3 separate regions of the Homo sapiens genome follow, and all the other regions are linked to region 1. The links come from fine-mapping of genetic effects on gene expression. A gene starts in region 1. Each other region holds a variant in brackets. All regions are shown on one strand. Distances are from middle to middle. Region 1 holds the start of LINC00621 (long intergenic non-protein coding RNA 621). Region 2 has its middle 75 kb from the start of LINC00621. Region 3 overlaps LINC00621 (long intergenic non-protein coding RNA 621).

The links.
Region 2: its variant is fine-mapped to the expression of LINC00621 in cerebral cortex (GTEx, PIP 0.95).
Region 3: its variant is fine-mapped to the expression of LINC00621 in iPS cells (HipSci, PIP 0.95).

The regions. Positions count from the first base shown.
Region 1 is chr13:22,911,871-22,920,057 of GRCh38, forward strand. It overlaps LINC00621 (long intergenic non-protein coding RNA 621), which reads right to left and starts at 4,499. Exons shown (of 3, transcript NR_138043.1): 1 at 3,848-4,499. It also overlaps the pseudogene NUS1P2. RefSeq lists an enhancer at 3,306-4,219.
Region 2 is chr13:22,836,912-22,845,098 of GRCh38, forward strand. It overlaps the pseudogene IPMKP1. Among named protein-coding and RNA genes, the nearest start is that of LINC00621, 75 kb to the right of the region's middle. The variant C/G (reference allele first, on the strand shown) is at 4,648.
Region 3 is chr13:22,869,929-22,878,115 of GRCh38, forward strand. LINC00621 (long intergenic non-protein coding RNA 621) reads right to left here. Exons shown (of 3, transcript NR_138043.1): 3 at 6,464-6,546. Among named protein-coding and RNA genes, the nearest start is that of LINC00621, 42 kb to the right of the region's middle. The variant C/T (reference allele first, on the strand shown) is at 3,158.

The DNA.
Region 1 (8,187 bases):
GATATATCAGAATCAGGGAGTTGCAGCTAATGTATGCTTGGAGGCAAATTTAAGCACTAAGATCCTATATTATAACAAAAAAGAAAGGTCTCAAATCAGTGACCTGAGTTTTCACCTTCAGAAACTGGAAAGAGAAGAGCAAATTAAACACAATGTAAGCAGATAAAGAAAATAATAAAAAAAACAGAAATCAATGAAAGAAAAAAGGGAAAATTATAAGAAAAATCCAAGAAAGTAAATGCTAATCATTTTAAACAATCAATTAAATTGTTAGACTTCTAGTCAGCTGATCAAGAAAAAAGTAAAAAGGCACGAATTACCAATACCAGGAATGAAAGGGTGGGTGTCACCAAATCTTCTACAGTAATTATAAGGAAACAATGGACTACTGTAAGCCATTTTTTTCTAATAAATTTGATAACTTAGATGAAATGAACACATTCCTTGGAGGGCATAAACTATCAAAGTTCACTCAAGAAGAAATAGATAACAAGAGTATCTATTGACAAAATCAAGTTTTTAATTAAAATCCTAATGACAAAGAAAACTAAAGGCCCAGGTGGTTTTCATGGTGAAGTCTAACAATATTTAAGGAAACAATAACAATTCTACGCAAATCCTTCCAGACAATAGAAAAGGAAAAGGTCTTTCCTTTATTTGATGAAGATAGCATTACTTTCTTACTAAATCAAACAGACATCATAAGAAACAACAACAGAGACCAATAACCCTCATGAACAATGATGAAAATATTCTTACTAAAATTTTAGCAAATCTAGTTCATCTATATCATGACAAAGTGTACTTTATTGCAGGAAGATAAAGTTGATTTAACATTCAAAAATCAATAAATGAACTTTACCATATTAGTGGACTAAAAAGAAAAATGCATATGATCATCTTAATAGAAAAAGCACTTAGTAAAACCCAACATTGAGTCATGATTAAAAGCCCTCACAAAACCAGGGATAAAATGAAGAGTCCTCATAGGATGCAGGCCATCTACACAAAAATCTATGTCTTCCTAAAATTGAGAACAAGGTAAAGATATCTACTCTCATCACTTTTATTAAACATTGTACTGGAGGTTCTAACTCATGAAATAAGGCAAGAAAAAGAAATAAATCATCTAGATTGGAAAGAGTAACACTTTCCTTATCATTTGTGTACACCAGTCCATGGAATCCATGAAATAAAAGCTATTAGAACTAATAAGTGAGTTAGCAAGGTGGCAGAGTTCAAGATTAATATACACAAATCAAGGGTATTTTTATATAAAACAATCAGAAATTGAAATTTTAAAAATGTTATTTCCAATACCATTAACAAATATAAAATTGTTAGCCATAAACCAAATAAAACATGTGGAAGACTTGTACATTGAAAACTGCAAAACATTGCTGAGAGAAATTAAAGAAGACCTAACTAAATGGAACATGTACCATGTTCATGGACAGGAAGACTTGAAGTTGTTAAGATGTCAATTCTCCCAAGTTGAGTTATAGATCAATTGAATATCAATCAAAATTCCAGAAGGCTTTTAAAAGTGAAAATCAATAATTGAACTTTAAGTTTTATATGGAAAAAATGAAGGACCTAGAATAGTGAAAATAACTTTGCAAAAGAAGAATAAAGTTGGAGGACTTACTTATCTGATTTCAAGGCTAAATATAAAGCTATATTAAAACAGTATGGTATTGCCATACATATAGACAAATAGATCAATGAAACACAATAGAGATTCCAGAAATAGACTCACATATATATGGCCAATAGATTCTTGACAAAGTACAAAGACAATTCAATGGAGAAAGTATTGTCTTTTCAACAAATGATGCTGAATCCCCAAAAAAGTGAACTTTGATTCGTACCTCACAGCATATACAAACTTTAATTCAAAGGAATTCATAGACCTTAAACTATAACATTTTTAGAAGAAAATAGAGCAGAAATCTTTGTGACCTTGGATACAACATAAAAAGCATAATTCATAAGAGAACAAATTGATAATATGCATTTCATCAAAATTAAAAACTTCCACTCTTCAAAATACACTGTTAAGAGAATGAAAAGACATAGATCAAGAGGACGTATTTTTAAATCACGTATCTGTAAAGGACTTCTATGCAGAACATATAAAACCCTTGAACCTCAATAATAAAATGCAAACATGCAATAAAAAGAGGAACGAAAGATTTGAACAGACACTTCACCAACAGAAATATTGATGGCAAACAAGATCAGGAAAAGATGCTTAATATCATTATTCAATAAAGAGATGCAAATTGAAACTACAAGTTGATACCACTACACACCTGCTAGAAGGTGTAAAATTAAACAGACTGATATACCAAGTGATGGCAAGGATGTAGAGAAATTAGAAACCTCCTACACTGCTCATGGGAAGGTAAAAATGGCACAACCACTTTGGAAAACAGTTTGGCAGTTTATTAAATAGCTAAATACACCTACCATATGATCCAGCCATTCCACTCCTAGAGAGAGAAAAGCATATGTCTATATAAAGGTTTGTATGCAAATGTTTATAACAGCTTTATTTGTAATAACCAAAAGCTGGAACCAATCCAAATGTTCATCAACTCCTGAATGCATTAACAAATTGCGTTTACTGATAAAATTGAAGACTCTTCAGCCATAGAAAGAAATGGGTTGTTGATACTGCCAAAAACATGGATGAATCTTAAAATAACTTCGCTGAAGCAAAGAAGCCAGAGCTCACAAAAGTATGAGGACATACACTATGCTTCCAGGTATATAAAATTATAGAAAATGCAAACTAACCTATGATAACTGAAAGTATGTCAGTGGTTGCCTGGGGACAGGCTGAGGGTGGAGAAGTGGAGGGAAGGATTACAAAGGGCACAAGGAGAGACTAGGGTGATGAATATGTTTATTATCTTTTTTTTTTTTTTTCCCCGAGACGGAGTCTTGCTCTGTCACGTAGGCTAGAGTGCAGTGGCGCAATCTCGGCTCACTGCAACCTTTGCCTCCCGGGTTCAAGCGATTCTCCTGCCTCAGCCTCCCGAGTAGCTGGGATTACAGGCGTGTGCCACCACGCCTGGCTAATTTTTGTATTTTTAGTAAAGGCGGGGTTTCACCATGTTGGCCAGGCTGGTCTCCAACTCCTGACCTCATGATCCACCCGCCTTCACCTCCCAAAGTGCTGGGATTACAGGCGTGAGCCACTGAGCCTGGCCGATCTGTTTATTATCTTAACTGTAGTGATGGTTTCACAAGCATAAACACACATCAAATTTTGCACTTTCAATATGCGCGGTTTAGTGTATGTCAATCATCCCTCAATAACACTGTTAAAAAAAGAAACATTAAAATTAAATTGTAAATTATCAAAGAAAAAAACACTAAAAGCACTTTTAAAAAGGCATAACTGTAAAGGGACTCTGATTAGATTGAGAGCAAACTTCACAACTGCAGCAATCACGACCACACACAGTGGAACAGTATATTCCAAGTGCTGATGAAAATAATCATCAAAATGGAATCTACCCTGCTGAACAGTGTTCAAGAGATAGTATAAAATGAATGCTTTTTAAAATTATTTATTTTTAGGGCGGGGCTGCCAAGGGAGGAGGAAGATGGCGGCGGGGGCGAGGTGAGGTGTTGGCAGTGGAAAGGGGTTCGGGCTTAGGGGGCGGGGGGACGCGGAGCGATGCCCGCGCCGGCGCAGGGGCGGATAAAAAGCCGTAGCGCCACGGGAGTGGGCGGGAGGGAGAGGGGGTACCCGAGGGCCACAAGAGTATGACGGGGCTGTAAGAGCTGGTGTGGCGGGTGCTGCCCCCCTGCTCTGTCTGCACCGCAAGCTCACCTCCTGGCTCCGCGTTCGGTTCGGCACTTGGAACTGGATCTGGCGACTGTGCCGGCGCGCCGCCTCTGCCGCGGTCCTAGCGCCGCTCGGCTTCACGCTCCGCAAGTCCCAGGCGTCTGCAGGAACCGCCATCACCACCCGCACCCGCGCCGGGGGTCGTGCCTGCCCGCAGCCCACCACCAGGTGCGCTGGCGCGCGGACGGCCCTTCCCTGGAGAAGCTGCCTGTGCACATGGGCCTGGTGATCACCGAGGTGGAGCAGGAACCCAGCTTCTCGGACATCGAGAGCCTCGTGGTGTGGTGTATGGCCGTGGGCATCTCCTACATTAGCGTCTACGACCACCAAGGTATTTTCAAAAGAAATAATTCCAGATTGATGGATGGAATTTTAAAACAACAGCAAGAACTTCTGGGCCTAGATTGTTCAAAATGCTCACCAGAGTTTGCAAATAGTAATGACAAAGATGATCAAGTTTTAAATTGCCATTTGGCAGTGAAGGTGCTATTGCCGGAAGATGGAAAAGCAGATATTGTGAGAGCCGCTCAGGACTTTTGCCAGTGAGTAGCCCAGAAGCAAAGGAGACCCACAGATGTGGATGTAGATATGTTAGTTTACTCAGTTCAAATGGTTGTCCTGATCCTGATTTAGTACTGAAGTTCGGTCCTGTGGACAGCACACGAGGCTTTCTTCTCTGGCACATCAGATTGACTGAGATTGTCTCTTTGCCTTCCCATGTAAACATCAGTTATGGGGACTTTTTCTCTGCCCTTCGTCATTATGCAGCCTGTGAACAGCGTCTGGGAAAGTGGTGGTCATTGGTTGCATAATTTGATCTGAGGCTTATGGAGGAAAGGACCCAAGTGACTCTGATGTTTAGAAAGCACCTATGAAACCCTGTACACACCTAGTTCATAATCCTCATAATTTATCAACAAACACAAAGAAGTGTCTTACTTGAGAGTGAGTGTGTGCGTGTGTGCGTGCACACATGTGCACGTTTGTATGTGTGGAAATAAACATAAATGGGGACGTGTTGGAGAAGGAAATACATAGACCTACAACTTTGAGCATATAGCAGTGATGTTTTAGGAACTGAAATGTCACACTTAATAAAGTCTTCAGCCCAGCTACTTCCCTGTTTTCGTGGGGAGAAGGGGGCCTGATTAGAACTGTTCTGGTTGTGTTTGGCGGGAGGGGAATAAATTTTGTTCAGTCCTTCTTAGTGACCAAACTTTAATTTTTAGGAATAACATATTGACTTACTGAACTGAAGCATTCTGAGTTGAAAGGAGCCCCAGAGGAAAGGAGTTCTGTGTTGCTCACATGTTAAAAGCTTGCTCACCTTCAGAGCAGAGGGAATACCTATCTTCAGATATCCGCCCATTTTCATCTCTTCATTATAGTCAAACAGTGTGACTTGAGAGTGTTGCTCTGGTGTCTGTATTCTGGCTTATGAAGATTATTTGAAAAAGAACTCTTACTACATTGAAATGCAGACTTTTAAAAATTTAAATATTGGATTAGGCAGTCAAAAAACCAAACAAGCATAAAAGGTCAGTAAGTTGTAATCTTAAAAGTAAAGGTGGAAAACTCATTATAAATGGAAGAAAAGTTTTGATTTCCTTTTTTGTTTGATGGGCAGTATGCCATATTATATCCAAAGTTGGTTTAAAAAATACTTCCATCAACTATTTTTATTTAAAATAAACATTTGAGGGAAGTTACCAAGGCAGCTTTTTTCCTCAAAAGTAACCTGTTCCTCTTTGGAACAGCACATTTTAGGGGCATGGTTAATACCTGAGATTTTTACTCAGTAAACCTGATGGTTACCGTGTGTAAAATATCTTTAAGTAGGATTGAAGGCCTCTGTGGGGAATATAATGTTACCAAAGCCTATAAAAATAAATTTTACATGTTCTTTTTTATGACAGAGAGCAGCACTGGTTCTGTTATTTTTTAAAATGAATAACTGATTTCTTGACAGGTGTTTAGTATTTCTTCCCTCACTGCTGATTCTTGGATAGAAACCATTCTTTGTATTTGATAGACTGTTTTCAGAAAACTCTTATCAACAAGTGTACAATAGTTATCTAAAACTGTACATTTAGAATGGAGCAGTTTAATACTAGATCTCAGAAATTTGAAAAATAGCAAAGAAGAGTGGATTTGGAAAGCATGGTCTACAATTGCTTGTCAATTCTGAAGCTATGAAGAATAAATGTTTCAGCTTTGGATTATGAAACCCCGTTTATGATTTTTAAAACACACTTGAAATAAAAATGATTGAACTAAATTTTGGTCCGGTGACATCATTTTGCACTGCATAGCCCATTATACATTGTAAGTCTTTTTGTTTTAATTTATTACTGAGAGTTTTCTGTGAAGCTACAGCATATCTAATCAGAGAATTTCTGATTTGTTTCCTTATACTGTGATTATGTTATATTAAGGCATTTGTAGTGCAGCTTAAGACTGAATTTATGCTTTTTGTAAACATGATCGGTGTAAATGTCTTATAAACATTCTGGAGTATGTATAACTTTAATGAATGAAATTTAATGGACCTGATTAAAATAAAGGGATTTAATCTTTGTTAAAGTGAAGTTAGTGGAATAAATTACCTACTGGAATATAGTCCAAGTCACTAAAGGTTTAATATTTGCATTTTTGTGCTTTTATTTTCTCCTTCCATTCATAATTATATACTTGAAAGTACATCTGTAGCCTATGACTTGAGTCTCTTGAACTTCTAGGAAGAGGCAAACTACAAACTACTAGGATTCTGATTTCAGATATAGGCATTCCAGAATCTTCTCTTTACGAGTTCACCTGCTAGTATAATCTCCACAACTTGAATGGCCTTGGTTGTTCTGTAATTGCTGCCAAAATCATCACAAGCTGTACGTCATCAAGGCTCCCTTTGCACTCCCAAGAAGAACTGTTCATTTTAAACAAAAGTGTATGTCTTTATTTGTATTGGAAAATATTGTCTTTAAATTGTTTCTTGTTGACACTTCCCACAATGGAAAAATTACCAAATTAAACCTGTTTTATGGATGGCAGCTTGGAGCATAGCAAGAAGTTGGAGGATTTGAATTCCATTCCCAGTTCTCATTGCGTTTTGTTTCTTAAAACTATAATAATTGGTTACTGTTATAAAGTTTAAAAGGTGGTTTTAATATGAATAGCAAATTCTGGTATATTGTGACTAACGCTTAAGAATGCCTGTCTTTGAGAGGAAGGTGTTATAATATTAATCAACAGTGCCAAATACACTGTGCATATCTACAATTTAATCTTTGAATGTTTGTTACTGGATTAGCTCCCTCCTCCTTCTGTGTGATGGTACCATGCATAGAGTCAATCAAATCCTTGTGATGTTTTGTATGGACTTTGACAACATGTAACTAATGTGTAAAGCAAGTTTTTATGATTAAGGAATCAAATTTATTGAATTTTATTATTGAAAGTTGAAACTTAACATGTATAAACAAAAAACAATAAAATAATAAACTATTTTCATTGACTATAAAAATTATTTATTTTTAAAAATTCATACATAATACTGTATGTATTTGTGGGGTACGTATTGGTGTTTCTATACATACAATGTATAGTAATCAGATCAGGGATATTAGCATATCTGCCATCTGAAATATTGATCATTTTTTGTGTTGGGAGAATTCAATGTCCTCTTTTAGCTATTTGAAAATATATATTCTTGACTACAGTCATCCTACAGTGCTATAAAACATTAGAACTTATTCCACCTAACTGTAATTTTTTGTCCTTTAACAAATCTCTCCCTATATCCCCCTTCCCTTTCCACCCTTGAATAACCTGGATTCTACTCTTTACTTCTATGAGATCAACTATTTTAGCTTCTATATATGAGTGAGAACATGTTTAACTTCCTGTTCCTGGCTCATTTCACTTAACACCATTTCCTCCAGGCTCATCCATGTTTCCATGGAGGACAAGAATTCATTCTTTTTATTGCTGAATAGTATTCCACTGTGTGTGTGTGTGTGTGTGTGTGTGTGTGTGTAGGTGTGTGTATGTGTGTGTATAAAATCATATTTTCTTTAGCCATTCATCTGTTGATGGAGACTTGGGTTGACTCCATAGCTTGGCTATTGTGAATAGTGCTGCAATGGACATGGAGTATGGACAACTCTTGGATGTACTGATTTTCTTTGCTTTGGTTCTTTACCCAGTAGTAGGGCTGCTAGATCATATGCTAGTTCTATTTTTGTTTTTTTGAGGAAACTCTATACTATTCTCTACAGTGGCTGTAGTAGTTTACATTCCCACCAATAGTGTGTAAGAATTCCCTTTTC
Region 2 (8,187 bases), 75 kb before region 1:
TGTTGACTCACAATACAAATTTTTTACATAGCATTAAAGGTGCAGAGATATTGACTGCTCCTCTTCATTATGATTGGCCCACCCCTTAAAAAGACTGCAACAGAGGATTCAATTGTCTAAAATACTTCGAAGTACAGAAATTAAATGCTTTAGCCCATAAATATATCCCTCATCTATTGTGCTGCTAGGGAACACATGAGCAAAATCTATCATTCGCACTCCTACTTCAGCAATCTCTTGGCAACCAGTGGGAAGATGGTAGAAAACTTTTTCCAGTTGGGAAAGTACATTTCCATTTAAATGTTCTGTGACATGCTTTTCCACTCATTGTCTTGCTCCAGATTTTCAACTTTCATTGAAGTCTGACTGTGATGGTTTTTGTATACATTTTCCTGTGACGAGCATACATCTTGGACAAGTTTTTGCCCACTTAAGCCTCTATTTTTCCATTCACTGTGGAACTTAATACATGAAAGTTATTATTGTACTCTAGTACCTCTGTGTCTGACAGTTGTCCTTTGGACAAAAACTTTTCTGCCAAAGTTCTGTCATTCAATTTTGTAGTGGTTGGCTGAGATGAACTTTCATAAACCAATAGTAATGAACTTGCATAAAAGTTAAGCTGCTTCTGGTTTTCAAACCACTGCAGAATTTTCTCAATCTTCTGAATACTGGCAGCAACAGCATCTTTTCTTAAGCAGTACCCATTATGAAAAAATCCGGAGACTCCATCCTTTGTAGTTCCTTTTGTTAAGCTTCTTCCATAATGCTGGTTTTGTATATCATAGCTATCGGAATGAACATGGTAAACCCTCATGCCAAGCACCAAGAAACCCAATCTCTTCCATTAATGGGTACTTGCTGAATCTTCTCAGATGAGGCAAAAGGATCATAGCTTTTTTGCCCTATCTTTATATTCATTATACAGGGCTTATTAAATTTATGTGTCACATCTTCCAGTTTTAGGTATAAATCGTTTGGTGCAGTGGGAGGTGACCAGATGCCATATTTTGGCAAATATTTTCGTAGCTCTAGAAGAACACCATCAGAACAGTCAGCAGCATAAACCGTATGCTCTCTTGGGCCCCTTGGAGGTGGTTGTAACTGTTTCAAAGCTGTGCCATCTGAGTGTTGCAGTATACCCACTTTGTCCTTCCCGTTCATGTGTCCGGCCACCTGATACGAGAGGGGCACTTAGCCGTTGAGGAGGCGGAGTCTGCCGCCCGCCGGCTGCCCGGTGCCCTCAGGGATGGCCTCGATCGCCGGTGGGGCCCGCATTTCCGGGGGGCTGGCGCCTCGACCCGGAGGGGTGATGGTGGCTCTTTTGCCATAACCGAGAGCAGAAGCGGTAGCGGTAGCGAGAGCAGGAAAAAAATAGGGCGAGGGAGGGGGCGCCGGAGAACCCGAGGGTCGCTCAGGCTCGGGCGCGAGGAGGCCCGGGGGTTCCCGCGGCTGGTGCCCGCTGAGGCCCCGAGAGGGGGCCCATGACAACCAGGGGAGGGGGGGCGTCTGCCCAACTCTTGGCGGAGCGCGGCTCCCGGCTCCGGCTCCTGTGCAGCCGCAGGCCCCGGCGCTGCCCAGTAGACAGACTAAGCAGGACTCTCTTAATGTCCCTTAAGTCTTTTGGTTCTTGTTTTACAGGACATATCAATTAGATTGCAATTAAGGAGGGATCTCGGAGAGTTTCTCCCTTCTGGCAGCTATGATGTACAGTCATATCAGGCAGGCAGACTAATCATTGTGTCATTAATCTGATGGCCAAATGCTTAGGTTCCTGAGTATAATGGAAAACAAATAGTGGCAGCTATCTCCTAGTGTAATGTATAAAAGAACTTAAACCTTTGTCTTTATGGATGGACAGATGTCACACAAGATTAAAACAAAAAATTACTTCAGATGCTGATAAAGCATTGGGCTCACATCCCAACTGAAGTTAACTCTGCAGCGAGACAATGGGGGGTTATGGGAAGCTTTGTGGCACACTAAAATGTGTATGAATGACCACTACACATTTGACCTTAGTATAGAGGACCCGACAATTTGGGGTACAAAGTATGTATTTTTATTGTTCCCAGGCAATTAGCACTCAACAACAACAGCATGTGTAGTGGATTAAAAGACACTGGGCAACAAGATGAAAGAGAGCTCTTTGTGAAATAGGTATGGGTATAGGCATGGTAAGACAAGCAAAGTTTTCCTTCAGTATAAAGGACATTCAAAAGAAAAAGATCAATAGCAAAAATAGACAAGTTGGAAGAAATTATGTTCAAACAGTAAAGAACAGAATCTATTGATGCTGCTATGATGTGAATGCTTGTCCCCTCAGAAACTCCTATTGAAACTTGATCCCCAATGTGGCAATATTGAGAGAAGGGGCCTTTAGGAGATGATTGAGTCATGAAGGCTCTACCTTCATGAGTGAATTCATTCATTCATAGATTAATAGGTTAGGCCAGGTGTGATGACACATGGTGGATGGCTTCCAGCACTCTGGGAGGCAAGGCAGGAGGATCACTTGAAGCTAGGAGTTCGAGACCAGCCTGGGCAACAAAGCTAGACCCCACCTCTACAAAAACATACAAAAATAAGCCAGGTCTGGTGGTATGTACCTGTAGTCCCAGCTACTGGTGTGGCTGAAACAGGAATATTGCTTGAGCCCAGGAGTTCAAGACTGCAGTAAGCTATGATTGCACCACTGCACTCCAAGCTGGGTGACAGAGTAAGACCCCATCTCTAAACAAACAAGCACAGGTTAATAGGCTACTGGATTAATGGACTGTCATGGGAGAGGGACTGGTGGCTTTATAAGAAGAGGAAGAGAAACTTGAGCTAGCAGATTAGCACACTCAGCCACTTCACTATGTGATGCCTGCCTTGGGACTCTGCAGAGAGTTCCCAGCAGCAGGAAAGCTCTCACCACATGCAGCCACTCAACCTTGAACTTCTGGGGACTCCAGAACTGTAAGAAATAAATTCGTTCGCTTTATAAATTACCCAGCCTCAGATTTCAGTTATAGCAACATAAAACAGACTAAGACAGATGCCCTAGTAAATCAGGTCATAGAAACCCAATCTACCATATTAGAAAATGACAAAACACAAAAAACTCATTATCGGAAAAGAGCACACAAGCTAGTCCAACAGAGCCTTCAAATCATGTTTCTTGAAATGGAGGTCAAATGAGTCATAGGCGGTGACCTACCGTTTTAGTTGCAGCAGAAGCTCTAGAAGTACACTTCTGAAAAATACGTGATCTCCTGAACTTATGAAAATTTTCTTGAGGCAAAGGCAATTTATATCAATGTTCCCTAAATGCTCTTATTCCAAGAATAAACCAAGACGTGACATATTGTGTAAAGAATATAATAAACAACACATGTATACTCCTTGTGGAATCAAGGAGAGCTTTTTTACATATGTAACACCAGATGGGAACCTTGTATCTGTGCAAACATACTGACAGAGGCTAAGAGATTAGCTTTGTACCAGTTAGCCTGAAATCCAGAAGTAACAGAATCATAAGACACTGGTAACAATCCCAGCTCATAATAATATCTAGTATATGGGTAAAGTCCAAATCTACTAACATGATTTTAATAATGCTATAATGCTCACCCAATTATTTTCTAACAATACGAAAGTATAGCATAGGGCTGGGCGCGGTGGCTCACGCCTGTAATCCCAGCACTTTGGGAGGCCGAGGCAGGCTGATCACGAGGTCAGGAGTTCGAGACTATCCTGGCTAACACGGTGAAACCACGTCTCTACTAAAAAAATACAAAAAATTAGCCGCGCGTGGTGGCACGCGCCTGTAGTCCCAGCTACTCGGGAGGCTGAGGCAGGAGAATGGCATAAACCCAGGAGGTGGAGCTTGCAGTGAGCCGAGATCACGCCACTGCACTCCAGCCTGGGCGACAGAGCAAGACTCCATCTCAGATAAATAAATAAATATATAATAGCACTGTGGCTCATACCTGTAATCTCAGCACTTTGGGAGGCTGAGGCTGGTGGATCACAACGTCAGGAGTTCGAAACCAGCCTGGCCAACAAGGTGAAACCCATCTCTACTAAAAATATAAAAATTAGCTGGGCGTGGTGGCACTCACCTGTAGTCCCAGCTACTCGGGAGGCTGAGGCAGAAGAATTGCTTGAACCCAGGAGGCGGAGGTAGCAGTGAGCTGAGATCATGCCGCTGCACTCCAGCCAGGGCGACACAGCAAGACTCTGTCTCAAAAAAAAAATAATAATAACATAATAATACTCCAATATGGTGTAAAATTGGGATTATTGGTAAAATTTGGCTATCTTATATAAATGCATCAAATGATAGTACTAATGTTGAGTGAATATACTGAGAAATTGAGTTAAAACTTCCTTGGGTTGTAATATCAATAGAGACACTAATTGGCCTGAGGAAGAATGAGATTTAATTAATCAATTAATCACTATAATAGGTGTTTCTGCAGAGTTTTCTCATAAAGTAAGATAGCCATAGATAAGTAAAAATCAATAATTAAGTTTATATAACAGTAAAAAGAAATATGTTGTGGAACATTGAATTTAACAGATTATTTCTTTAAGTCTGCCCCCCTTCCTCACTAACTTCTGCAAATGATGCATGTATTTGCATTACCATTCCTGTTTTAC[C/G]CTATAAATAAATGGTACACTACATGTAGATTTAATAGTGTTATAAATAATTTCTTTGTAAGGTGAAACTGACTAAGGGTCAGAGGTAAACTGCAAGGAATAAAATAACTCAGCAGGTCTGTTTTATCATTTTTGCTTCTTTCTGTAGCCATTGTAATGCCTCCTGGCTAAGTGCTGAGAACCAAGTCCCGGCATGTGCACATGGTAACTGGTTAATGATATTATTCTGCATGCCCAAGGCAGTGGTCAGGATGCATCAGACTGTCAGCATTATGTAAGGTAAACCTGAAGGTTCATGATGTGATCCTGATGCCTGGTTTGGGACACTATTGCTGGTCATGTAACCATGTGACCAGTATGGATCACAAGGATCAAGTGAGCTTCCCAAAGTTGAGACATCTTGGACATGACTTTTCTGTTTGCAGCTGGAACCCTCATATGCTGGTCCATGCAAGCCTCATATGTTGAGTCGCGTAATTTCTCCAGTGAATCACCAAATTTGTGAGTAGTTATATGACTTCCCTAAACAATCAAAGGATCTGCATTAAACCTATAAAGTCTTTCACTAAATTCCCTCAACATTTCTGACCCAGCACCATAGCTGTGGATGTTTCAGTGGTATTTACATATAACCCAAAGTACATTCCTAAAGAAAGTAGCCATTTTTATCTTTTTCAGCAAGATATAGTTGAATCCATCTAATATCACCATTGCCACTACAAGTAAGCTATCATTAAAAATCTTTGCTATTTTAGCCAAAAATAAAATAAAATAAAATAGGCGAGATGAAATATTTTTTCAAATAGTTATTTGCCATTTTTATTCACATTTTGGTTAAATTGTATAATTTTTGTTCTTTATCTTAGCAGTACTTTTTTATATATTTAAACAAATTCAATATTTTGCCTGTCATCTTAGTTGCAAATAATTTCCTAGCTTCCTAGATCAGAAATTTTGCTACAACAAATACAATCCTTTACTCCAATAATATATTTTACTTGGTTATTACTAACATATAAAAAGTATTGTCTTTATGTACTTATTTAGAAATTATATTAAAGTTTTCGATGGATTCAAGTGGATTCTCACTAGATTCTAACAGTTGTTTCCCAGGCAGTACTCAGTAAAGTTTAAAATGATCATTTCTCCCTTATTCATGTCCAGGTTAAATAATAATTATTCCTAACTTTAAAAGTGTCTGCTAGTATTTCTTATTTAAGAATGTTATCAGGTTTAAAATTGAGATGTTATAAAGAATATTTAGGTCAGGCACGGTGGCTCATGCCTGTAATCCCAGCACTTTGGGATGTCGAGGCGGGCAGATCACGAGGTCAGAAGTTCAAGACCAGCCTGGCCAACATGGTGAACCCCGTCTCTACTAAAAATACAAAAATTAGCCAGGCATGGTGACGGGAGCCTGTAATCCCAAAAAAAGAATATATGATAAGTTTGATTTAATGACTTCAGAAGATATTTACATAGTGATGCACTATTTCTCATTTGACAGTTGGTGTGAAATCCCGAAAGTCTGTTCTCACTCTGCACAGTAAGTAGTGCAGGACTGTAAGAATAATCCATGCTGAAATCATGCAAACCAATCTTTTTTTTTTTTTTTTTTTTTTTTGAGAGGGAGTCTTGCTCTGTCGCCCAGGCCGGAGTGCAGTGAGGCAATCTCGGCTCACTGCAAGCTCCGCCTGCCGGGTTCATGCCATTCTCTTGCCTCAACCTCCCGAGTATCTGGGACTACTGGCGCACACCACCAGGCCCGGCTAATTTTTTTGTATTTTTAGTAGAGACTGGGTTTCATCGTGTTAGCCAGGATGGTCTTGATCTCCTGACCTCGTGATCCACCAGCCTCCGCCTCCCAAAGTGCTGGGATTACAGGCGTGAGCCACCACGCCCGGCCGCAAACCAATCTTATTAACTAATGGGAAGATTATGATTATTCTAGGGCCTTAAAACTTTTGTGAATATATTGAAAAGAATCTGTTGCTGTCAGCTACTAACACACATTACTAAAGCTAAGTTTATTTAGTACACTATAATTTAAGAATTGGAAATGTTGATGATTGAAGTGTTTCATTGCTTTATTTAAAACTTCCAAAGAAAAGTTTGAATGGTGTTTGCCTTCCTCTCCTCCTCATATAACTTTTGCTATGGAGTGCTCATCTTTTCTATGCCTGGGTTTATTGTCACGCTCCACGCTCCTTTCTAAGTCTGGATCAGATGCTCACATTTAATCCTTTGCATCTTTGGTCATGCAGTATTTCTGAAAGCCCTGTAATGTGAAGCGATGTTTCGCCAATGTCACTTACTCTGGGACATCTTTGTCCTTTATATCATAACCTCTCTCCTCCTTTGTACTGATAAGCTCACCTTCACTAAGTTCCTCTGGCTGCGTATCTAGTGTCAGTAGTGTCAGCCCCATGGTCAGTTGTTTCTTCTGTAACTCCATTTACTTTTGTTTCAACTTTTACTTCCAGCATTACCTCTTTTCATTTCATTTTACTTTTATCTTCACTGTTCAACTCTCTTTTCCCATTGTCCACTTACTTTTACATTCAGAGAGCAGATTCTTTTGACTCGACAGAGTCTCACTCTGCTGCCCAGACTGGAGTGCAATGGCGCGATCTCGGCTCACTGCAACCTCCGTCTCCCGAGTTCAAGTGATTCTCCTGCCTCAGCCTCCAGAGTAGCTGGGAATACAGGCGCACGCCGCCACGCCCAGCTAATTTTTTACATTTTAGTAGAGACGTGGTTTCACCATGTTAGCCAGGCTGGTCTCGAACTCCTGAGATCAGGCGATCCACCCTCGGCCTCCCAAAGTACTAGGATTACTACAGCCGTGAGCCATCGCGCCCAGCCTTTTTCATTGTTTATTCAGCAATTTTTCATATTTATAAGTAACATCAGGCACTACTTTTTTCAGTAGCTTGTTTTTTCTACTTTCATGTGCCATTGACGTTAGAAAACTTGATGAAATGGAACAGAGGAGCTTCATGCTTTCTACGTTTCTGAACAACAAGTCGTACATCTGGGAAATAACTTTTTTTTTTTTTTTTTTTTGGCGGGGCGGGTGGGGACAGGGAACGGAGTTTCACTCTTGTCGCCCAGGCTGGAGTGAAATGGCTCAATCTCAGCTCACTGCAACCTCCACCTGCCGGGCTCAAGCAAGTATCCTGCCTCAGCCTCCCAAGGAGCTGGGATTATAGGCGCCCGCCACCACGCCCAGCTAATTTTTGTATTTTATATTTATATTTATAAATATATATATATTTTTATTTATATTTATATTTATAAATTTTGTATTTTAGTAGAGACAGGGTTTTACCATGCTGCTCAGGCTGGTCTCCAACTCCTGACCCGCCCACCTCGGCCTCTCAAAGTGCTGGGATTACAGGCGTGAGCCACCATGCCCGGCTTGGAAATAACTTTTTTTCTTTAAGTGTTTTAAAATGAACTCACATGACCCTTTTTACTAGTAGGTGCTGGATTGCCCAGCTTCCTTTAGCTGTTGTTAATATTATCACCCTCGATTTC
Region 3 (8,187 bases), 42 kb before region 1:
CCCCAGTATCTTCATTCTTAAGAAGGTACATTATTTTATTTTTTGCCTATCAATGCTTCCTAGCCTGGAGGATATGAAAATATATCTAAATCAACTGCAAGGACCATGCCACCTTTAGAGAGTGATCTAGAAGATCAAGCCCACACATTGAGTTTGGCAGAGAAGAAAGAGGGCCTTAGCCTTACTGAACTGCTGGACTTAAAAAACCTTGGACCTAACCTGCCTTTGCACTTATTTTGACATTTACTTTCCTATTAATCCAGTTGATTTTTTTTAACTTACAATGTAGATATATAGATGATACATAAATCACTTTAAATGACAGGTTAGAAAACATTTACTTCAAGTAGCCATATTATATGGTGAATACTGTCAAAAGATTCAAAATCATTATGTGATGGGCCTGGCCAAGACAATGGTATGCATCAGGGATCTGGAAGAACCAGCACATTCAAATTGGGCAGGCTGAGACCAGCTTACAAAGGTCTGGGTAGGATGCAGGGAATTCCCAAGTGATATGGTTCGGCTGTGTCCTCACCCAAATCTTATCTTGCATTGTAGCTCTCATAATCCCTGTGTGTCATGGGAGGGACCCAGTGGGAGGTATCTGAATCATGGGGGCAGGTTTTTCCCATGTCGTTCTCATGATAGTGAATGTCTCACTAGATTGGATGGTTTTATAAAGGGCAGTTCCCCTACACATGGTCTCTTGCCTGCCGCCGTGTAAGACATACCTTTGTTCCTCCTTCACCTTCCTCCATGATTATGAGGCTTCCCCCGCCATGTGGAACTGTGATTCCATTAAACCTCTTTTTCTTTATAAATTACCCAGTCTCGAGGTATGTCTTAATGCAGTGTGAGAATGAACTAATATAGTAAACTGGTACCAGTAGAGTGTGGTGCCGCTGTAAAGATACCCAAAATGTGGAAGTGAATTTGGAACTAGGTAACAGGCAGAGGGTGGAATAGTTTGGAGGGCTCAGAAGAAGAAAGGAAAATGTGGGAAAGTTTGGAACTTCCTAGAGACTGTTGAATGGCTTTGACCAAAATGTTGATAGTGATATGCACAATAAAGTCCAGGCTGAGGTGGTCTCAGATGGAGATGAGGAACTTGTTGGGAACTGGAGTAAAGGTCACTCTTGCTATGCAAAGAGACTGGTGACATTTTGCCCCTGCCCTAGAGATCTGTGGAACTTTGAACTTGAGAGAGATGATTTAAAGTATCTGGTAGAAGAAATTTCAAAGTGGCAAAGTGTTCAAGATGAAGCAGAGCTTAAAAGTTTGAAAAATTTGCAGCCTGACAATGCAGCACAAAAGCAAAACCCATTTTCTGAGGATAAATTCAAGCCAGCTGCAGAAATTTGCATAAGTAACAAGGAGCCAAATGCTAATCACCAAGACAATGGGGAAAATATTTCCAGGGCAAGTCAGAGACCTTTGCAACAGCCCCTACCATCACAGGCCCAGAGGCCTGGGAGGGAAAATGGTTTCCTGGGCTGGGTCCAGGGCCCGCCTGCTGTGTGCAGCCTTTAGACTTGGTGCCCTGCATCCCAGCTGCTCCAGCCATGGCTAAAAGGGCCAAGGTACAGCCCAGGCCGTGGATTCAGAGGGTGCAAGCCCTAAGCTTTGGCAGCTTCCACATGGTGTGTTGAGCCTGTAGGTGCATAGCAGTCAAGAATTGAAGTTTGGAAACCTCTGCCTAGATTTCAGAGGATGTATGGAAATGCCTGGATGTCCAGACAGAGGTGTGCTGCAGGGGCAGAGCCTTCATGGAGAACCTCTGCTAGGGCAGTGTGGAAGGGAAATGTGGGGTGGAAGCCCCTATACAGAGTCTCCATTGGGCACTGCCTAGTGGAGCTGTGAGAAGAGGGCCACTGTCCTCCAGACCCCAGAATGGTCGATCCACTGACAGTTTGCACCATGAACCTGGAAAAGCCACAGCCACTCAATGCCAGCCCGCGAAAGCAGCTGGGAGGGGAGCTGTGCCCTGCAAAGTCACAAGGATGGAGCTACCCAAGACCATGGGAACCCACCTCTTGCATCAATGTGACCTGGATGTGAGACATGGAGTCAAAAGAGATCATTTTGGAGCTTTAAGATTTGACTGCCCTGCTGGATTTTAGACTTGCATGGGGCCTGGAGCCCCTTTGTTTTGGCCAATTTCTCTTATTTGGAATGGGAATATTTATTCAATGCCTGTACCCCCATTGTATATAGAAAATAACTAACTTGCTTTTGATTTTACAGACTCATAGGCGAAAGGGACTTGCCTTGTCTCAGATGAGACTTTGGACTTGGACTTTTGGGTTAATGTTGAAATGAGTTAAGACATTGGAGGACTGTTGGGAAGGCATGATTGTATTTTGAAATGTGAGGACATGACATTTGGGAGGGGCCCAGGGAAGAATGATATGGTTTGGCTATGCCCTTCCCCCAAAATCTCATCTTGAATTGCAGCTCCCATAATCCCCATGTGTCATGGGAGGGATTCAGTGGGAAGTAATTGAATCATGCGGGCGGGTTTTTCCCATGCTGTTCTCATGATAGTGAATAAGTCTCATGAGATCTGATGGTTTTATAAAGGGCAATTCCCCTGCACATGCTCTCTGTCTTGCCACCATGTAAGATGTGCCTTTGATCCTCCTTCACCTTCCTCCATGATTGTGAGGTCTCCCCAGCCATATGTAACAGTGAGTCCATTAAACCTCTTTTTCTTTATACATTACCCAGTCTCAGATATATCTTTATTAGCAGCCTAAGAATGGACTAATACACCAAGAGAGAGTATAATGCCCCAGGGCCAGGGCCACTGTGACCTGTGGTAACAATGGATGGGCACAGTTACTGGGACCTGGAGCACAGAACATGTGTCAAGATGCCAGTTGTCAGGAGCTGTGTGGCAGTTATCTATTCCACAATAAAACTGGGGATATCAATATCCACAAGATATCAATAAAATTGATTATCTCACAGTTTCTGTGGTTCAGGAATCTGAGAAGGGCTTACCTGGAGGCCTCTGGCTCAGTCTCTCAAAAGCTGCCATCAAGTCACAGGCCAGGGTCATCTCAAGGCTCACCTGGGGAAGGATCCTCTTCTAAGCTCACACATGTGGTTGCTGGTATTTGGAAATGGAGTCCTTGGAGGTTATAGGTTTAGG[C/T]GAGGTCATGAGGGTGGGACCCTCATGAATGGGGTTAGTGTCCTTATAAAAAGGAATACCAGCAAATTCTCTCTCTTTTTCCCATGTGAGGACACAGCAAGAAAGCAGACATCTGCAAATCAGGGAGACAGCCCTCAGCAGACACAAGACCTGTTGACGCCTTAATCTTGGACTTCCCAGCCTTCAGAACTGTGGAAAATAAATGTTTGTGGTTTAAGCCACCCAGTCTATGATGTTTTGTTATAGCAGCCTGAATTGACTAAGACAGATACCTTGAAAACCACCATCCCCTGCTGAGCAATATTGTTCTGCTCCTTAGGCTGATTTCAGTTTTCTTTCACTTAGCATTTCATAACTTTAATTTGCTTGTTAAAAAATTTATCTGGATCTTTTATTCCCTTTATCCTAAACTTCAAACCACCCACTTTCTTTTGCAAGTTTTCTGTTTGACACCATTCACTTCCTTTTCTTTCTCCTTCATTCATTTCTCCCTTTCTCCCTCTTTCCCTCCCTCCCTCCATTCCTTTTGTCCTTTCTTCCTTCCTTTCTTCTTTCTTCCTTTATTTTTTTCATCTGACTCTTTCCCTGGCAATTGTCCTTGGCTCCTTCGTTTACAGTAGTCACTCTTGATGGTGAGCATTTTGAATCTCCAAATGACTATGAAATCTTTTTATTTCTCATTAGCGCATGCAGGTAGTACATGTGTTTCAGTAAAATTGAGGAAGCCTGGCAGACACTCTGTGGTCTCTGCTGCATTTTCTCTGGAATAGCTACAGCTCTGTGTAGCAATATGGTTAAGGCACCATATTGTGTGAAGGCCCACCTAGCCTGGGCATCACTGTATCTCTGTCTTCCTAACAAAATGAAGTGGAAATTTCAAAAAAATCAGGAGATGGAACAAAAGTTTTCTCATGTTTTTTACTGCTTATTAAATGAACAACGAACAATAATCCAATGTTAAATGTAAAGTTTTCAGCCCTCTGCCTGAATAGGCTCACCTAGTTATTTGAACATGCCTCACTCCAAATCTTGTCCTCAGCAACTGTGGATAAATCATGACAGAGAAGTTCCCCTAACCTACAGCAGAGGCTCCTCAAGCTATGCCACCCTACTGATATAGAAGTGGAGAAAGAGTGCTGGGCGTGGTGGCTCACGCCTGTAATCCCAACACTTTGGGAGTCTGAGGCAGCGGCTCACGAGGTCAGGAAATCGAGACCATCCTGGCTAACACTGTGAAACCCGGTCTCTAATAAAAATACAAAAAATTAGCCGGGCGTGGTGGTGGGCGCTTGTAGTCCCAGCTACTTGGGAGGCTGAGGCAGGAGAATGGAGCGAACCCGGGAGGCGGAGCTTGCAGTGAGCCGAGATTGTGCCGCTGCACTCCAGCCTGGGCGACAGAGCGAGAGTCCGTCTCAAAAAAAAAAAAAAAAAAAAAAAAAGAAAGAGAAAAAGAAAAAAAAATAATGGAGAAAGAGGTGTTCTGGCCCATTTAGTTACATTTTCCAGGGCAAAAATCACGGATACATGGTGAAATTCAACTATATTCTCTGCCCAAGATAAAATCCAATTACAGCCTCTGCTCAATGAGGAAATCCCATCACAGGTTCCTTTTGCTTCACTAGGAGACAAAGAGACAAGTTTGTTTATAATCTATTTATAGAGGCATACACACCTTAAAAAAAAGTGGTCCTCAAGTAGGAGATTTGCATTTGTTGGTCATTTTATTTCTGGGCAGATGTTCAGTCTTTCTAACTTGAAAAGTGTCTAGCAACTTTGGCTGACCTTATTAAGATTAATGGTCATAATGTATTTAAATCCCCTGTTGTTCTAAGAAGGATTAAACAAAAGTTATGGGAGGCCCTTGTTTTAGACTGAGCTATTACAAATTGGGCCACAAGAGACCAGACTAAACCAAAATGGAGTCACTCATGCTAAATACCATATAATTAAACTGGAACTCTAAGGAAACAGGTAGATCCCACATCAGACTTGTTTTTCCTGAAATCAGGGGATACAAGTCTGAGTCAGTATACTAAAAAAGTCCCCTCTGCTTTAACGCTTATGAACAAAGTAACCTGCAGGAACCTGAAGTTAACCAGTCAGCTTTTGTTCTATTGTTCTACTTCCTTGTTCTCAGTATGACCTCTCATTCTATTTTGTAGTATGGAGGCATCTCTGATTAACAAATCATGAGAAGAAAGCCAATTAGATAACCAAATAATTATTATCTCTTACTGAAATAACTCCCAAGGACCTTTGGCAAGATCTAGCACTAACCAAATTTTCCCAGAAAAAAATTTTGGGAAAGGACTATTTGTGGATTGTAAACCACTACTAGGGCAGATCCCAACTGATTAGAGATGGATTTTGAGGATGCACTCAAGAAAAAGAAGCACAAGTTAAAGTAGTACCTGTCACCTGTGCTTTTTCCAAAGAAGGTTTTGTGAACTTCAATATTTAAACAGGAAAGAGTAAGAAGGAGTGGAAGAAACAAAAGGAGGGAGGGTAGGCATTGATGCAAGTGGTGAGGCATTGATTAGCACTCAGTGAATCTATATTTTACACATGCAAAGAAGGGCGTAGAGGAAAAAGTCAATTATGCATTCATTTCATGCTCAGTAAATCTATATTTTCCGTAAGATAAAGCAAGCATGTGAAATCATGGTTCTTTCTGTTTGGGAACAAAAAGAAGGCAGTTTTATGCGTGACTCAGTTCCCACTCTTAACTTTTCGCTTTGGCATAGTGAGACGGGAGTCCTAAGACGTTATTTATTTATTTATTTATTTATTTATTTATTGACGGAGTTTCACTCTGTCGCCCAGGATGGAGTGCAGTGGTGCCATCCCTGCTCACTGCAACCTCTGCCTCCCAGGTTCAAGCGATTCTGTTGCCTCAGCCTCCTAAGTAGCTGGGACTACAGGCACCTGCCACCACACAGGCTAATTTTTGTTTTTTCAGTAGAGACAAGGTTTTACCATGTTGGCCAGGCTGGTCTTGAACTCCTGACCTCAAGTGATCTGCCCACCTCGGCCTCCCAAAGTGCTGGGATTACAGGCTTGAGCCACCGCCCCTGGCCCAGCCAAGGATTTATTTGTGCCTGCAGATAGCTGTATGAACAGACACCTGTAAGAATTGGGGGAATTCCTCTCTTCTCAATGTTCCAAAGTAACTTGAGGTTCCGGGCCATTCAAAGGTGAAATTTTTTACTCACCACAGGTCAGGAGCTTTGTAAAGGAATTGCATGCAGAGGGTACCATGCCAGTTTTTCCAAGGGGTTTTTCTCAGCCCTTAAAGTCAATTTTAATTCCTCAAAGCAGTCTGGTTATTTCTGAAAAAATGTCATTCCAGTCAAAGACTTGATAAAATATCCAACGTCTCCAATTGGGTTCTGTTACAAGAGAAAACAGATTCTTATTGAACTTATGCAAATAATTATATTGCCATAAATTAAGGATTGTCAAAAATAGTTTCCAAATTCGGCTGGGCGCAGTGGCTCATGCCTGTAATCCCAGCACTTTGGGGAGGCCGAGGAGGGCGGATCATGAGGTCAGGAGATCGAGACCATCCTGGCTAACACAGAGAAACCCCGTCTCTACTAAAAATACAAAAAAATTAGCCGGGCGTGGTGGCGGGGGCCTGTAGTCCCAGCTACTTGGGAGGCTGAGGCAGGAAAATGGCGTAAACCCGGGAGGCAGAGCTTGCAGTGAGCGGAGATCGTGCCACTGCACTTCAGCCTGGGTGACAGAGTCAGAGTCCATCTCAAAAAAAAAAAAAAAAAAAAAAAGTTTCCAAATTCTGGAGAAATCAGGTAAAAGAAAAAGAAACGTGGCTGGGCGCTGTGGCTCACACCTGTAATCCCAGCACTTTGGGAGGTTGAGGCAGGTGGATCACAAGGTCAGGAGATCGAGACCATCCTGGCTAACATGGTGAAACCCTGTTTCTACTAAAAATACAAAAAAATTAGCTGGGTGTGGTGGCGGGTGCTTGTAGTCCCAGCTACTCAGCAGGCTGAGGCAGGAAAATGGTGAACCCGGGAGGTGGAGCTTGCAGTGAGCTGAGATCGCACCACTGCACTCCAGCCTGGGTAACAGAGCAAGACTCCGTCTCAAAAAAGAAAATAAAAGAAGAAAAAGAAAAAGAAACGTGTTTCAGATTCTGGTCATAAGAGTATACTTTACTCAATTGTTAAAAATTATAAATAGATCAAAAGAAAAAAGCTATCTTTTTAAAGTAATTTCTATTTTTATTTTAGATTCAGGGGGTATATGCACAGGTTTGCTACCTGGGTATATTGCATGGTGCTGAGGTTTTGGGTACAAATGTTCCCATCACCCAGGTAGTGAATATAATACTCAGTAGTTTTCAACCTATGCGTCCTCCTTCCCTCCTACCTCTAGTAGTCCCCAGTGCATATCATTGCCATCTTTATGTCCATGAGCTCCCAAATGTTTAGCTCCCACTTGTAAATGAGAACATGTGGTATTCAGTTTCCTATTCCTGCATTAATTCACTTAGGATAGTGGCTGCATCCATGTTGCCGCAAAGAACATGATTTCATTTTTTATGGCTGCATAGTACTCCATGGTGTATATGTACCACGTTTTCTTTATCCAATCCACTATTGATGGACGCCTAGGTTGATTTCATGTCTAAAAGTTTTCTTGACTGAAAAAAAAAATCAACAATGCTTCAAACAAAAAGGGTTATAAAATATATTTCAGTCCTCTGTTAGTTCAGTTCTATGAAATTAATTCATTTCATTTGATATTGGGATTAGTAATCCTCATGAACACAGTAGCTCTACAATGAGAGTTCTGGAAGTTTGTTTCTCTACTCTACTGATGAAATCTCCAAGGTTGTCAGAAACTTACATTTGAAGCACCCATCAGAATCCTTTCTGTGAACTACCCTAAAGAAGCAAGTTTTGGACTATAGCTGATTATTAACTGCTTTTTGAGAAGAATCAAATAAAATAATAATTGTCTGTGGATGACAAAAGTTTTAGGACAGCCATGGTTAAAGATAAGGA